Homo sapiens: one gene and its partner. The protein of the gene in region 1 interacts with the protein of each later gene in a biochemical or structural test. Each region holds a gene or a part of one and is shown on either strand. Other genes may lie near its edges.

What was found. The genes of interacting proteins can lie anywhere in the genome.
Region 2: of the proteins of CYP3A4 (region 1) and AMFR, one has a biochemical effect on the other in vitro, tested with the Homo sapiens proteins (4 studies listed by BioGRID).

The regions. Positions count from the first base shown.
Region 1 is NC_000007.14:99,766,400-99,775,424, reverse strand, and holds part of CYP3A4 (cytochrome P450 3A4), read left to right. Parts: intron 1-2,735; coding exon 2,736-2,835; intron 2,836-5,189; coding exon 5,190-5,303; intron 5,304-5,568; coding exon 5,569-5,657; intron 5,658-6,922; coding exon 6,923-7,071; intron 7,072-8,166; coding exon 8,167-8,294; intron 8,295-8,528; exon of another isoform or gene 8,529-8,981; coding exon 8,982-9,025.
Region 2 is NC_000016.10:56,415,546-56,422,545, forward strand, and holds part of AMFR (E3 ubiquitin-protein ligase AMFR), read right to left. Parts: intron 1-7,000. UniProt on the Homo sapiens protein: E3 ubiquitin-protein ligase that mediates the polyubiquitination of lysine and cysteine residues on target proteins, such as CD3D, CYP3A4, CFTR, INSIG1, SOAT2/ACAT2 and APOB for proteasomal degradation.

The sequences.
Region 1 (9,025 bases):
GCGTGATGCCTCCAGTTTTGTTCTTTTTGCTTAGGATTGTCTTGTCTATGTGGGCTCTTTTTTGGTTCCATATGAACTTTAAAGTAGTTTTTTCCAATTCTATGAGGAAAGTCAGTGGTAGCTTGATGGAAATAGCATTGAATCTATAAATTACCTTGGGCAGTATGGCCATTTTCATGATATGGAGTCTTCCTACCCATGAGCATGGAATGTTCTTCCATTTGTTTGTGTCCTCTTTTATTTCATTGAGCAGCGGTTTGTAGTTCTCCTTGAAGAGGAGAACTTCACATCCCTTGTAAGCTGGATTCCTAGATATTTTATTCTCTTTGTAGTAATTGTGAATGGGAGTTCACTCATGATTTGGCTCTCTGTTTGTCTATTATTGGTGTGTAGGAATGCTTGTGATTTTTGTAAATTGATTTTGTATCCTGAGACTTTCCTGAAGTTGCTTATCAGCTTAAGGAGTTTTGGGGCTGAGACGATGGGGTTTCCTAAATATACAATCATGTCATCTGCAAACAGAGACAATTTGACTTCCTCTTTTCCTAATTGAATATCCATTTCTTTCTCTTGCCTGATTGCCCTATTCAGAACTTCCGACACTATGTTGAATAGGAGTGGTGAGAGAGGACATCCTTGTCTTGTGCCGGTTTTCAAAGGGAATGCTTCTAGTTTTTGCCCATTCAGTATGATATTGGCTGTGGGTTTGTCATAAATAGCTCTTACTATTTTGAGATACGTTCCATTGATACCTAGTTTATTCAGAGTTTTTAGCATGAAAGGCTGTTGAATTTTGTCAAAGGCCTTTTCTGCATCTATTGAGGTAATTATGTGGTTTTTGTCATTGGTTCTGTTTATGTGATGGATTACATTTATTGATTTGGTATTTTGAACCCAGCCTTGCATCCCAGGGATGACGCTGACTTGATCCTGGTGGATAAGCTTTTTGATGTTTTGCTGGATTTGATTTGCCAGTATTTTATTGAGGATTTTCGCATCGATATTCTTTAGGGATATTGGACTAAAATTCTCTTTTTTTGTTGTGTCTCTGTCAGGCTTTGGTATCAGGAGATACTGGCCTCATAAAATGAGTTAGGGAGGATTCCCTCCTTTTCTATTGTTCAGAAAAATTTCAGAAGGAATGATAACAGCTCCTCTTTGTATCTCTGGTAGAATTCAGCTGTGAATCCATTTGGTCCTGGACTTTTTTTGGTTGGTAGCCTATTAATAATTGCCTCAATTCAAAACCTATTATTGGTCTATTCAGAGATTCAACTTCTTCCTGGTTTAGTCTTGGGAGGGGGCATGTGTCCAGGAATTTATCTATTTCTTCTAGATTTTCTAGTTTATTTGCATAGAGGTGTTTATAGTATTCTCTGATGGTAATTTGCATTTCTGTGGGATCAGTGGTGATATCCTTTTTATCATTATTTATTGCATCTATTTGATTCTTCTTTTTTCTTTATTAGTCTTGCTAGCAGTCTATCTATTTTGTTGACCTTTTTCAAAAAACCAGCTCCTGGATTCACTGATTTTTTGAAGGGTTTGTTGTGTCTCTATCTCCTTCTGTTCTGCTCTGATCTTAGTTATTTCTTGTCTCCTGCTAGCTTTTGAATTTGTTTACTCTTGCTTCTCTAGTTCTGTTAATTGTGATGTTACTGTGTCAATTTTAGATCTTTCCTGCTTTCTCTAGTGGGCATTTAATGCTATAAATTTCCCTCTACACACTGCTTTAAATGTGTCCCAGAGATTCTGGTACATTGTGCCTTTGTTCTCATTGGTTTCATAGAACATCTTTATTTCTGCCTTCACTTCCTTATTTACCCAGTAGTCATTCAGGAGCAAGTTGTTCAGTTTCCATGTAGTTGTGTGATTTTGAGTCACTTTCTTAATCATGAGTTGTAATTTGATTTCACTGTGGTCTGAGAGACAGTTTGTTGTGATTTCTTTTCTTTTACATTTGCTGAGGAGTATATTACTTCCAATTATGTGGTCAATTTTAGAATAAGTGCGATGTGGTGCTGAGAAGAATGTATATTCTGTTAATTTGGGGTGGAGATTTCTGTAGATGTCTATTAGGTCCTCTTGGTCCAGAGCTGAGTTCAAGTTCTGAATATCCTTGTTAATTTTCTGTCTTGTTGATCTGTCTAATATTGACAGTGGGGTGTTAAAATCTCCCATTATTATTGTGTGGAAATCTTAGTCTCTTTGTAGGTCTCTAAGAACTTGCTTTATGAATCTGGGTGCTCCTGTATTTGGGTGCATATATATTTAGGATATTTAGCTCTTCCTGTTGTATTGATCCCATCACCATTATGTAATGCCCATCTTTGTCTCTTTTGATCTTTGTTGGTTTAATATTCTTTTTAAAATAAAATATTTTAAACATATGAAACATTATGGAGAATGGCATGGGAAATATCCACGTATGCACCACCCAGCTTAACAAATGCTCTACTGTCATTTCTAACCATGGTCTCTTTGAAGAGCTCTTTTGTCTTTCAATGTCTCTTCCTTGTTTGGCCCACATTATCCTTCATCATATGAAGACTTGAGTGGCTCCTGTGTCAGACTCTTGCTGTGTGTCATACCTAATGAACTAGAACCTAAGATTACTGTGTATTGTACAACTAAGGGATTATGTAAAGTCAGGATCAAAGTCTGGCTTCCTGGGTTGGGCTCCAGCTGTAGAATAAGGCTGTTGATGTTTAATCAACTCTGTTTTTTTCACACAGCTTTTATGATGGTCAACAGCCTGTGCTGGCTATCACAGATCCTGACATGATCAAAACAGTGCTAGTGAAAGAATGTTATTCTGTCTTCACAAACCGGAGGGTAAGCATTCATGTGTTGAAATTAAAATACTGATTGATTAAATTTATATTTTGAAATTCTTATATATTCATAGACAGTTGCCTAAAAAATGTCCAGGAAGGTTCCACGTCCACTTCATCCTGTCCCCCCCGAATGGTAACATCTTGCAATCTTGCATAACTATAAATACAGTATATTCATGTTACTATATAGTACAGGAAATTGACATTGATACAGTTCACAGAGCTTATTCAGATTTCACCAGCTTTATGTGCCCTCATTTCTGTTCTATGCAAATTTATCACAATCATAGATTTGTGCAATGACCAGCATGATCAAAACGCAGAACCCATTTGTGTTCTATACAAATTTATCACATCATTAGTAGATTTGTGCAATGACCAGCATGATCAAGATGCAGATCCACTCTGTCTCCATGTGGCTCCCTCCTGCTATCCTACAGTCACAAGTCTTTTTCTCTGACAGGGTCCATATCAGAGCAAACTATTTTTTATTTTGAGGTGATCAATGTATTAATATTTCCTTTTCTGGATTGTACTTTTGGTGCCATGTTTGAAAGTTCTTTGCCTAGCCCTCCTTCCTATATTGCTGTTTTTTTCTAAAAGTCATAAAGTTTAATGCTTTACTAAATGTAGCTCTATTATCAATTTTGTGTTATTTTTTGTATAAGGTATGAGATTTAGATCAAGGTTCATTTTTTTTGTGGCTTATGGCTGTCCAATTCCTCCAACGCCATTTTTGGAAAGATGGGTATATTGTTAAAAATCAACTGGGCATACTTCTTTGCATCTCTCACGTACTACTGTGTCCCATTGATCACTGTGTTTATTATTCCACCAATACCACACTGTGTTGACCCTAGTAGCTGTACACTAACTCTTAACCTCGTGTAGAGTGATTCTTCCCACTTTTATTGACTTATTTTTTCAGATTTGTTTTAACTCTTCCTGGTCCTCTGCTTTTCCATAAAAATTCAGAATGAGTTTCTCAGTGTCTACAAATAAACGTGCTGTTATTTTGACAAGAATTGAATTAAATATATAGACCAGTTTATGGAAAATGTGTATCTTTACTGTTTGATCTTTCAATTCATGAACATAGTATGCCTCTCCATTTCCTTAGATTTTCTTTGATTGCTTTTAACATCTTGTAGTTTTCAGCATAGAGATCCTGTACATGTTTTGTTAGATTTACAGCTAAATTATTTCATTTTTGTTGGAATGACTGTAAATGATATTATGTTTTTCTTGTATTTTCAGATATTGATTGTTGTTACATAGAAATGTGCTTTGATTTTGTGTGTTGATCTGGTATCCTAGAACCTTGCAGAACTGACATAGTAGTTCTAGAAGTCTCTTTGTATATGCCTTGAGATTTTACACATTGTCAGTTATGTCACTTGAAAATAGAGACAATTCTTTTATTTCCTTTCCAATCTGTATGCCTTTTATTTCTTTTCTTTTGTCTATTGCACTAGGACTTCCCAGTATAATGTTGAGTAAATGTGGTGAATTTTTGAATTGTTCCTAATCTTAGGAGGGAAGCCTTCAGTTCTTTCATCATTAAGCATCATTTAGATGAAGTGGGCTGTTTTTTTGTAGATTCTCTTTATCAAATTGAGGAATTTTCTCTCCCTAGTTTGCTGAGTTTTTATCATAAATGAATGCTGGAAGTACTCATTATAAAAAAAATGGCTATGGAAGATGAAAGAAAGTTTCAAGCATGTTGGCTTGATAGGCCAGTTCCAAGTTGGCAAAAATAATTATCTCTTTTTTCTTTCTATCCATGAAATAAAAAATTAAGAGACAAGAATGTTTATGGAATTGCATTATTTCTTCAAAATATGTTCCTAGTTTTAAAGGTATTACCTACTATTTTTTTTAAAACCATCACATTGAGGCACTTCTTTTTCACGTTGCCCATGCTGCAGGAGAACATAAAGACAGCTTGTCTGAGGCAACATACAATCCACCAAAGTCACCTGCTTGTCTGTCTCCACTCCGTCTCTACACTGCAGAAGTGCTAGGTCTTGATTCTGTTTATTGTACTGGAAGAACACATTCTCTACCACGTGGATAATTTGCATGTAAAAGAAGACTGGGATATAGAGGCTGGAGACGACATCAGGGTCTCCTGAACACTGCCGCCACCCCCCCGCCCCGCCCCACACAAATACATCCCAGGACACTGGGCATCTGGGATAAATCTCTATTGAGCATCTAGCATAGGGCCCATCACCCAGTAGACAGTCACTAAATAGTTGTTGAATAAGTGTTCCTGTTTAACACATTTTCTACAACCATGGAGACCTCCACAACTGATGTAGGACAAAATGTTTCTGCTTTGAACTCTAGCCTTTTGGTCCAGTGGGATTTATGAAAAGTGCCATCTCTATAGCTGAGGATGAAGAATGGAAGAGATTACGATCATTGCTGTCTCCAACCTTCACCAGTGGAAAACTCAAGGAGGTATGAAAATAACATGAGTTTTAATAAGAAACTTAAAGAATGAATCTGGTGGGGACAGGTATAAAATAAGATCACAGTCCCTTTCCAAGGGGTAGTCCACTGAATTTGAGCTGCCTAAAAATGGTCTTTTATCTTTATGTACAGAAAACACATCACAAAATTCATTATAAAATGTCACTTACTGCTCCATGCTGGGGAAAGCCATGTCCTTCTGGGACTAGAGTCTGCACATTTAACTATGGGTGGTGTTGTGTTTTGTGCTTAGATGGTCCCTATCATTGCCCAGTATGGAGATGTGTTGGTGAGAAATCTGAGGCGGGAAGCAGAGACAGGCAAGCCTGTCACCTTGAAAGAGTAAGTAGAAGCGCAGCCATGGGGTTCTGAGCTGTCATGAACCCCTCCAGCTGCCTGCCATGGAGCTGATATTCCTGCTGTTGGGTTATTCCAGTGACCAGACAAAAGGAGGGCTGTGGTAATGCAACTTCAATGGGTCTCCCAAGATGGGGCAGCTCCGATGAGGAGGTGGGGCAGCTGGAGGAAAAGGATCTTCTCCCCTGTGCACAGGGGCCAGGGTTTACATATCCATTAAATTGTCACCTTGGATATTCTAGAAGACTAAATATATCCTTTAGGGGGAAAAAGTGTGATTGTACCAAAGTTTTAAGCATGGAGTGTATGGGATGGTGGAAGGGGAAGGCACTTGGTATCTGTTGGTTGGCAGTGAGTAGGTTGGGAGAGTTATAATGGAGAACTTAGAATAACTTTGATCATTTCATGTTTTTTTCTGAGGATATCAGTAGAATACTAAATATTAAAATTCCTACCATTTCTTTTTCCTCCAGTCTCAAAGAGAGAGGGTGGTAAAAACACTATAGGTAGGGCAAGCCTATTATTTGCTATCTACACTTATGCAGTAAAAACAGGTGTAATCTGAGTTTGTCCTGGGCAGACCAGGGATATGTGGTCACTCACTATAGAAATTTCCAAATCAAATTTTGAGAGATTTTTTTTTAACCAGGACATTATTGGTCATTATATTTTACAAAAATAATTCTGCTGTCAGGGCAACCTCAGCTCACCACAGCTGGGGATAGTGGAATTTTCCAAAGCTTGAGCAGGGAGTATAGAGAATAAGGATGATATTTCTAGGAGCTCAGAACAGGGTACTGTTGCTTTGTAAAGTGCTGAAGAGGAATCGGCTCTGGGCATAGAGTCTGCAGTCAGGCAATATCACCTGTCTTGAGCCCCTTAGGAAGAGTTAATTATTCTACTCTTGTTCTGCTGAAGCACAGTGCTTACCCATCTTGTATCATCCACAATCAATACATGCTACTGTAGTTGTCTGATAGTGGGTCTCTGTCTTCCTATGATGGGCTCCTTGATCTCAGAGGTAGGTCTAATTCAGTTCAGTGTCTCCATCACACCCAGCGTAGGGCCAGCTGCATCACTGGCACCTGATAACACCTTCTGATGGAGTGTGATAGAAGGTGATCTAGTAGATCTGAAAGTCTGTGGCTGTTTGTCTGTCTTGACTGGACATGTGGGTTTCCTGTTGCATGCATAGAGGAAGGATGGTAAAAAGGTGCTGATTTTAATTTTCCACATCTTTCTCCACTCAGCGTCTTTGGGGCCTACAGCATGGATGTGATCACTAGCACATCATTTGGAGTGAACATCGACTCTCTCAACAATCCACAAGACCCCTTTGTGGAAAACACCAAGAAGCTTTTAAGATTTGATTTTTTGGATCCATTCTTTCTCTCAATAAGTATGTGGACTACTATTTCCTTTTATTTATCTTGCTCTCTTAAAAATAACTGCTTTATTGAGATATAAATCACCATGTAATTCATCCACTTAAAATATACAGTTCAGTGATTTGTAGTACATTTGAAGATATGTGTGACCATCATCATTTTAAACTTTAAAACTTTTTTTGTCAATCTAGAGACCTCATACATTTTTAGCTATCAGCCCCCTGTCACAAACCCTGTCATCATATGCAACCACTAATCAACTTTCTGCTTCTATGGATTTGCCTATTCTGGACACTTCATAGAAATGATATTAATTCATCAGGGTTTTTTATTCTCTAGTTCATGAATTTGTACTTTAGTCTGTATCATTTTCTTTCTTCTGCTGGCTTCAGGCTTAGTTTGCCCTTCTTCGTTTACTATGTTGTGGCATGAACATAGATTACTGATTTGTGATTTTTTTGTTCCTCTAAATTTAGACATTACAGCTGTAACTTTCCCTCTGAGCACTTCCTTTGCTAAATCCCATGAGATTGTGGTCTATCACATCTTAGTTTTTGTTCACCTCAAAACAGTTTCTATTTGCCCTTTTGGTTTCTACTTTGACTCATTGGTTACTTAAATGTTTATTATTTAACTTCCACATATGTGTGAGTTTCTCAATTTTCTTTCCCTTATTGATTTTATCTTTATTCCATGATAGGTGACAGAGATATGCTGTGTTATTTCTATCTTGACTACCTACTATTTCTTGAACAGCAAGATTAATTTTGAGCTTCAGATTATGATTTGGGTTATTCTAGGAGACTGTAGTCCAATAGATAAAGGCAAAGAGATTAGGGCATTGAATTTTGTTCCTTTTATCCTTCAAAAGATGCACAAGGGGCTGCTGATCTCACTGCTGTAGCGGTGCTCCTTATGCATAGACCTGCCCTTGCTCAGCCACTGGCCTGAAAGAGGGGCAAAAGTCATAGAAGGAATGGCTTCCAGTTGAGAACCTTGATGTCTTTTACTCTTCTGGTTGGTAGAGAAAACTAGAATTGCTCCAGGTAAATTTTGCACATTCACAATGAATTTCTTTTTCTGTTTTTGTTTTGTTTTTCCTACAGCAGTCTTTCCATTCCTCATCCCAATTCTTGAAGTATTAAATATCTGTGTGTTTCCAAGAGAAGTTACAAATTTTTTAAGAAAATCTGTAAAAAGGATGAAAGAAAGTCGCCTCGAAGATACACAAAAGGTAAAATGTGGTGGTAGTTATAGGAGGATGTTTAGTTTTTCATAATTTTTTAGATAATATACATATGATCAGTGCAGTTACCTGTATGTTTTTAAAGAATGCTTTTAACATGAAGACTGCTCATGTTTAGAGCAAGAGAATTCATTTGGTAGAAATGCAGAAAGTGGGGTTTGGGGAAGGAGATATGAGAATGAGTCAGAGACAGCACATGAAATTTGATATCAGACACAACAATTAGTATGCCACGGCATAAATTTTATTGAGATAAAACTTTACCACTTTACTTCCCTTCAATAAATTGTCAGAGGATAAACATTACTGTTTGGAAATATATTTTACTGATATTATGCTTTCCCCAGATCATAAATTGGTAAAGACTCATTTCAAGTACAAACCTGTTATTTTACACATTCTCAAATGAAAGTCCCTATCAGGCCACCTGCTGAAGTGTAGCGTGTGTTAAATTTGAGCCATCTCACATGATAGCCAGATTTGTTTCAGGAAAACATCCTGCTTTCCAAGGATTTAGAAGGGTATGTTTTTCACTGGTGATTCAGGCAACATGCATCAGATTTCTGGTCTTCAAGGAGCCATATTCTCAGAAGGGAGATCAAGGACCACGCTTGTGATTTACTTCTGACTTCAGGAGCCACTTTCTGTCAGTGAAATTTCTCTTTTTGCTTCTAGCACCGAGTGGATTTCCTTCAGCTGATGATTGACTCTCAGAATTC
Region 2 (7,000 bases), on another chromosome or scaffold:
CTGATTCATTACAAATGATTAAATTTAGTTCTATTCTGTCTGCCTAATGGGCCAAGGAAGTATGTAATACATTTTTAAAGGATTGAAACGAAAATAGTTCTGCTAAAGAAATAAACTGTTTTGGTACTTAAATCCTTCAAACAACCAGGAACAAACGCCCAAACTAGTTGCCCCAAATATCCTAATCTGTGTAACAGACCTATTCAAAATGGTCCAGATCACCAGGAGCATGGTGGCTCACACTTGTAATCCTGGCACTTTGGGAGACCAAGGTGGGAGGACTGCTTGAGGCCAGGAATTTGAGACCAGCCTGGGCAACACAGCAAAACCTTGCCCCTACTGAAAAATATATAAAATTTTTTAAAAAGAAAAAACAATTCAGGTAACTTGAAATGTTCATTTTTAAGGTGATGAAATAGATGCTAAAAAGACTCACCTTCATTGTGATCTAACCAATCTCAGCCACATTAACTAAGAGAAATGTCATAAGACAAAACCACAACCCCTCATGTCACATCCCCCAGCCAAACATGCCCCAGCTTTATTACGACGCAATTTCTTAAAATAATTCTTCCCGTTTTTACATGTAGTCAGTCATATGAATTTAAAAAATAAATGCAACACATTTAGCACTTGTTCGAGGCATGTGGGAAATCAGAAAAATGAGGGAGCTCTGAACCCTAAACTCAAAGAGCTTTTAGAATCTACAAGAGATAGAGCATGGTAAGCAATTTAACAGAAGGCCAAGCAGGCTACTACGAGAGTAATGATGGAGAAAAAAAACAAATTTAGGGTCACTTAAACATTTCTCTATTCAAAACAGTACTGTCACACACATCTTAAGTTATCAAATAAAAAATAAAGTATTATTTACTATTTCTCAAACTCTTTAAATAAAAGTCTATTTATTTATTTTTTTTCTGACAGTCTCACTCTGTTGCCCAAACTAAAGCACAATGGTGCAATCTCCGCTCACTGCAACCTCGGCCTTCCAGGTTCAAGCTATTCTCCTGTATCAGCCTCCCAAGTAGCTGGGATTACAGGTGTGAGCTACCACACTAATTTTTGAATTTTTTTATAGAGACATGGTTTCACCATGCTGCCCAGGCTGGTCTCGAACTCCTGGGCTCAAGTGATCCGTCTGCCTCGGCCTCCCAAAGTACTGGGATTACAGGCATGAGCCACTGCGCCCAGCCTAAATAAGTCTTTGAATTCAAATAAGGTATAAAAAATGTGTATCTTTAATTTATCCAAAAAAAGGTAAAAGTCTCTTATAATCCCATCACCCATAGAACAACCACTTCCTATTTTAATTTAAATGAAGATTTGAAAATTAACATGGCTAACCAGGAAAAAAAAAAAAAAAGTCTGAGTATACTGATACTAAAAAGGGAATTTATGTAAAAAGTAGATAAGCTGTTGTGAACTTTGTAACCAAAGCTACAAAGGATTGAAAGCAATCCTTATTTTAAGATTATAAGCAAAGTTTTTTAAAACACCTTAATGATTATTAATAACTATTCCATGTCTATTTATAGAAAAATACCTTAATTATAATGATTATATGTTAATTACAAATACTGACCTGGCACAGTATCTCGCACCTATAATCCCAGCACTTTCGGAGGCCAAGGTGGGGGGATTGCTTGAACTCAGGAGTTCAAGACCAGCCTGGCCAACATAGTGAAACCCCATCTCCACAAAAGATACAAAAATTAGCCGGGTGGGGTGGTGTGCACCTGTAGTCCCAGCTACTGAGGAGGCTGAGGTGGGAGGATCTCTTGAGCCCAGGAGGTCAAGGCTGCAGGGAACCGTGATTGCACCACTGTACTGCTCCAGCCTGAGCAACATAGTGAGGCCTTGTCTCAAATAAATAAATAAATAATATTGTGTCATACATATAACTTCTCAACTTCAGTTAACAAAGGCTTGAAAAATTGTAAATACAATTGAGCAACCCTGATGCAAAAATCCAAAATCTGAAATGCTCCAAAATCCAAAACTTTCTGAGCACCAACATGGCGTCACAAGTGGAAAATTCCACACCTGACCTCATGTGACGAGTCGCAGTCAAAATGCAGACTTACAACAGTTTACTCAGTGTCCCTAAGGGAAAAATGAAACTACCTTCAGGGTATGTGTATGAATGAGATGTATATGAAACAGAGGAATTTCATGTTTACATTTGGGTCCCATCCCCAAAATATTTCATTATGTATATGCAAATATTCCAAAATCCAGGAAAAAAATCCCAAATCCAAAACTTCGGGTCCCAAGCATTTTGGATAAAGTATTCTCAACCTATACTGAAAGAAACATAACTGGAGCATTCCTCATTTAAAAGCACTGGCTCATGTCTATAATCCCAGTACTTTGGAAGGCCAAGGTGGGTGAGTTGCTTGAGTCCAGGGGTTCGAGACCAGACTGAGCAACATGGCAAAACCCCATCTCTACTAAAAACACAACAAATGTAGCCAGGCATGGTGGTGTGTGCCTGTAGTCCCAGCTACTTGGGAGGCTAAGGTGGGAGAATCACCCTAGACACAGGGAGGTTGAGGCTGCAATAAGCCCAAATAGCATCACTGTACTCTAGCCTGGGCAATCGGAGTGAGACTCTGATTCAAAAAAAAAAAAAAAAACTGCTTAAAAAAAGTAAACTAAAATAAAATAAATCCCTGAATCAGGCACAGTGGAACATGCCTGTAATCCCAGCACTTTGGGAGGCTGACGAGGGAGAATCACGACGTCAGGAGTTCAAGACCAGCCTGACCAACATGGTGCAACCCCATCTCTACTAAAAATACAAAAATTAGCCAGGGGTGGTAGTGCTCTCCTGTAATCCCAGCTAGTCAGGAGGCTGAAGCAGGAGAATCGCTTGAACCCGGGAGGCGTAGGTTGCAGTGAGCCGAGATCATGCCACTGCACTCCAGCCTAGGTGACAGAGTGAGACTCCATCTCAAAAAAAAACAAAAAACAAAAAAACGCCAGGCGCACTGGCTCACACCTGTAATCCCAGCACTTTGGGAGGCCGAGGCGGGCGGATCACGAGGTCAGGAGATCGAGACCATCCTGGTTAACTCAGTCAAACTCCATCTCTACTAAAAATACAAAAAATTATCCGGGCACATGGTGGGCGCCTGTAGTCCCAGCTATTCAGGAGGCTGAGGCAGGAGAATGGAGTGAACCTGGGAGGCGGAGCTTGCAGTGAACCGAGATCGCGCCACTGCACTCCAGCCTGGGCAACAGAGCGAGACTCCGTCTCAAAAAAAAAAAGGAAATATGTGCACACACGTTTGTATAATATGTAGGTGTGAACTGTCAAGGACTTGATCAATTTGGGTATTTCTTAGTCTCCTACTTAACAACAGTACTTATTACAAGAATTTGATAATTGCCATTTCTGGAAGAGAGAAGCAGGTAACAGGGAGAGAGAGAGATCTACTTTTCACTGCATGTCACTTCTGTATCCCTTAACTTTTTTTTTTTTTTTTAATTTTAGACAGAGTCTCACTCTGTCGCCCGGGCTGGACTGCAGCGGCGCATTCTTGGCTCACTGCAACTTCCACCTCCCAGGTTCAAGCGATTCTCCTGCCTCAGCTTCCCAAGTAGCTGAGATTACAGGCACCTGCCACCATGCCTGGCTAATTTTTGTATTTTTAGTAGAGACGGGTTTCACCATGTTGGTCAGGCTGGTCTCAATCTCCTGACCTCAGGTGATCCTCCCACCTCGGCCTCCCAAAGTGCTGAGATTACAGGTGTGAGCCACCATGCCAGGCCTGTACCCCTTAACTTTTGTACCCTGAGCATGCATTATCTATTTTTTAAAATTTTTTTAAAGTTTAGAATCTACTAAACTAACCTGACTAGTTCTGCAATTCCACATTATTTTTCTCACCATATGATGACAAACTGATGAGTAACAAACCAAAACAAGTTCTCCTGTTACAGCACAGTATTTCAACTATGGCCAGGCGTGGTGGCTCATGCCTGTAATCTCAGCACTTTGGGAGGCCAAGGTTAGTGGATCACCTGAGGTCAGCAGTTCAAGACCAGCCTGGCCAACATGGTGAAATCCCGTGTCTACTAAAAATACAAAAAATTAGCTGGGCATGGTGGTGCACACCTGTAATCTCAGCTACTTGGGTGGCTGAGGCAGGAGAATTGCTTGAACCCAGGAGGCGGAGATTGCAGTGAGCCGAGATTGTGCCATTGCACTCCAGCCTGGGCGACAGAGAAAGACTCTGACTCAAAAAAAAAAAAATTCAACTATATTAAAACACTTCAGAATGTTTCTCATAGCTATAGTGCTGTCAAAGCTTCAAGTCATTTTTTAAAAACTCACCAAATGCCTTTTTTTTCCAGTCTACACAAAATAAAAACAAGTTTTACTTGTCCCCGTTCAGAGTGTAGCAGGTCAGGCAGCAGTGATCCCAGCAACCCTGACTTACTCAAGGCTCAAAGTTAATTCCCTTCACTCCAAGGCCCAGCAGGAAAATGTCCCTTCCAGAATGGTTCTACTCTTCTACTGGAGAAAACAGAAACTAAATTATAAAATAGTTAGGCCTGCCTGGGAGAAAAAGAGAGGAAGGTGCATTTATCACCATGTAACCCTACAGGTGTTTTTGACCCTGTAAAATGTTGGCCACCAACAGGTGCTTATTTATGACCTTGCAAAGACATGGGATTAAACTACTAGGAACCTATTCCAAGACATGGTCAATCTGGATATTTCTTAGACTCCTGCCTACACCAGCACCACTCCCCTGCGCCCCCTACCATTTGGTGGTTTCCTCCCTTTAAGGACAATTCACGTATTGTTACCTCTCTGCAGGCTCCCAGAAACAAACACATAATACAAACATGCACACACTCCCCTTCATCACATAGATGATAACTGTGTTCCTTCTTTAACAAGACTAGGGAAATAGACGAGAGTCCGCACGCAAAGCATACCTAGGAGGTGATCAAATAGCAGTCCCCTTCTCCCTCACCTGGAAGACATTCCTTTTATTTTTAATTTATCTAGGCTCACATCCAATTATTCACAAGTTTAGTCTTTTTTCCTTCAGCTGCCCCAACATTTCTGGAGCTAACATTTTTCCCTCATATACCTTGAAATAGTCAACTCATAAAGACTAAAACCTAGGAAGTCACTTTCAGCTCTTAATTTTGTTTTGTTTTTTTTTTTTGAGACCAGAGTCTCACTCTGGCCCAAACTGCAGTGCAGTGGCACAATCATAGCTCACTGTAACCTTGAGCTTCTGGGTTCAAGCAATCCTCCTGCCTCAGCCTCCCAAGCAGCTAGGACTACAGCACAGGCCACTACACTTAATTTGCATAATTAAGTCAGAACCTTGACAGTAGTTTCATATTTCTATTTCTCCATTTACATGTCTTGCTCTTAGAATTTTAGAAGCAGGTATTTTATATCTTTAAAGGGTTGTAAAACAAATTAAATAAGGAAGTTGCAGAGCCTAAAATATTCACCATCTGAGAGCACTTTAGAGAAAAATTGGCTGACTCTTATTTTAAAAAGCCTATTTTCACATAATTATAATGGTGACTAATTTTTTTTTTTTTTTTGGTAGAGCAGGGGGTCTCACTATGTTGCCCAGACTCCTGGGCAGCTCCTGGCCTCAAGCAATCCTCCACCTCCTGCCTCAGCCTCCGCCTCTCAAACTGCTGAGACTGCCGGTGTGAACCACTGAACCCAGCCCTTAAGTTTTATAATAATACGAAAATCGGCTCTTTAAAATAGGATTCAGCCAATTTTTCTCTAAAGTGCTCTCAGATAGTGAATATTTTAGGCTCTGCAACTTCCTTAATTTATTTAATTTGTTTTACAACCCTTTAAAAATATAAAAACCATTCTTAGCTGTTAAGACAAAAACAGGCCTAGTCAAATAGGTCACGAGTTTGCCAATCCCTGTTCTAAATGGTCAATTCACTTTTATCCACTTTTGTTTGTGGTCATTTTTCCCCTTGAGAGTTCTATTTAAATGATATTATTTGCATAATTAAGTCAGAACCTTGACATTAGTTTCATATTTCTATTTCTCCATTCACGTATCTTGCTCTTAGAATTTTAGAAGCAGATATTTAAGAAAGCAGAAAAGGGAACTAATAAAAGTAATGAGTAAGAATTAAAAAATGAAAAAGCCAAAACACCTGAACAATCCAAAACCATGCTAGAATGGACCAAGAGGTAGCTGAATGGAAGCATTATCTGAGCAATGTAAAATAGCCCAGAAATGAGTAACAAAATAAAAACTCATCTGAAATGAAACTTTAGGATGGAAGTTTTAGAAAGACAAGGAGAAACAAATTCTCAGGTCAAACCCACATATTTGTTAGTGTAAAAACCCTGAAGTCTCCTCCCAAATCCTTTCTCAATGTCATGCCTGAGGGCCACCTGGAGAGGCCCCCTTGGGAGGAGGAAGTTTTAGGTCACTAGATCTCCCGTCCTCTTCCCACTCTACATAAATCTATCTTCCACACTGCTCCCAATCTTCTAAAAGAAATCATGCCAGCACCCCCACTCCTCCATGCCCCACCCCCACTTAAGCCCCATCAATGGCTTCTCTCACTCCACAAAATACTGTCCACACTTGGTAGAGCAAGCAAGGTCAAGGTTACATGACATCACACTCTAGCCTCTTCCTAGGTCAGTTTTTCAACCACTAGTGTTCCTCAAATCACCTAGGGCATTCATTAAAATGAAGATTCCAAGGCTCCACCCTTCTCTCTGAAATGGATCCCCAGGGAAACTACATTTTACAAGTACCCCAGATGACCACATACCAGGATGCCAGAGGTCCACATTTTGAGAAAGAAACCTTCAAGGGGGTTGCTCACCTCCTCCTCTCACAGCAGAGCCACCTGCCCCACCTCCTTCACCTCCTCCCCACCTCCTTCACCCCCGGTCTCCTCTTCACCTTCTCAACCTCCCTCTTAAATCAGAAGATTCAACAGACTTTTAATTTAACAGCCCAGCTTCCGG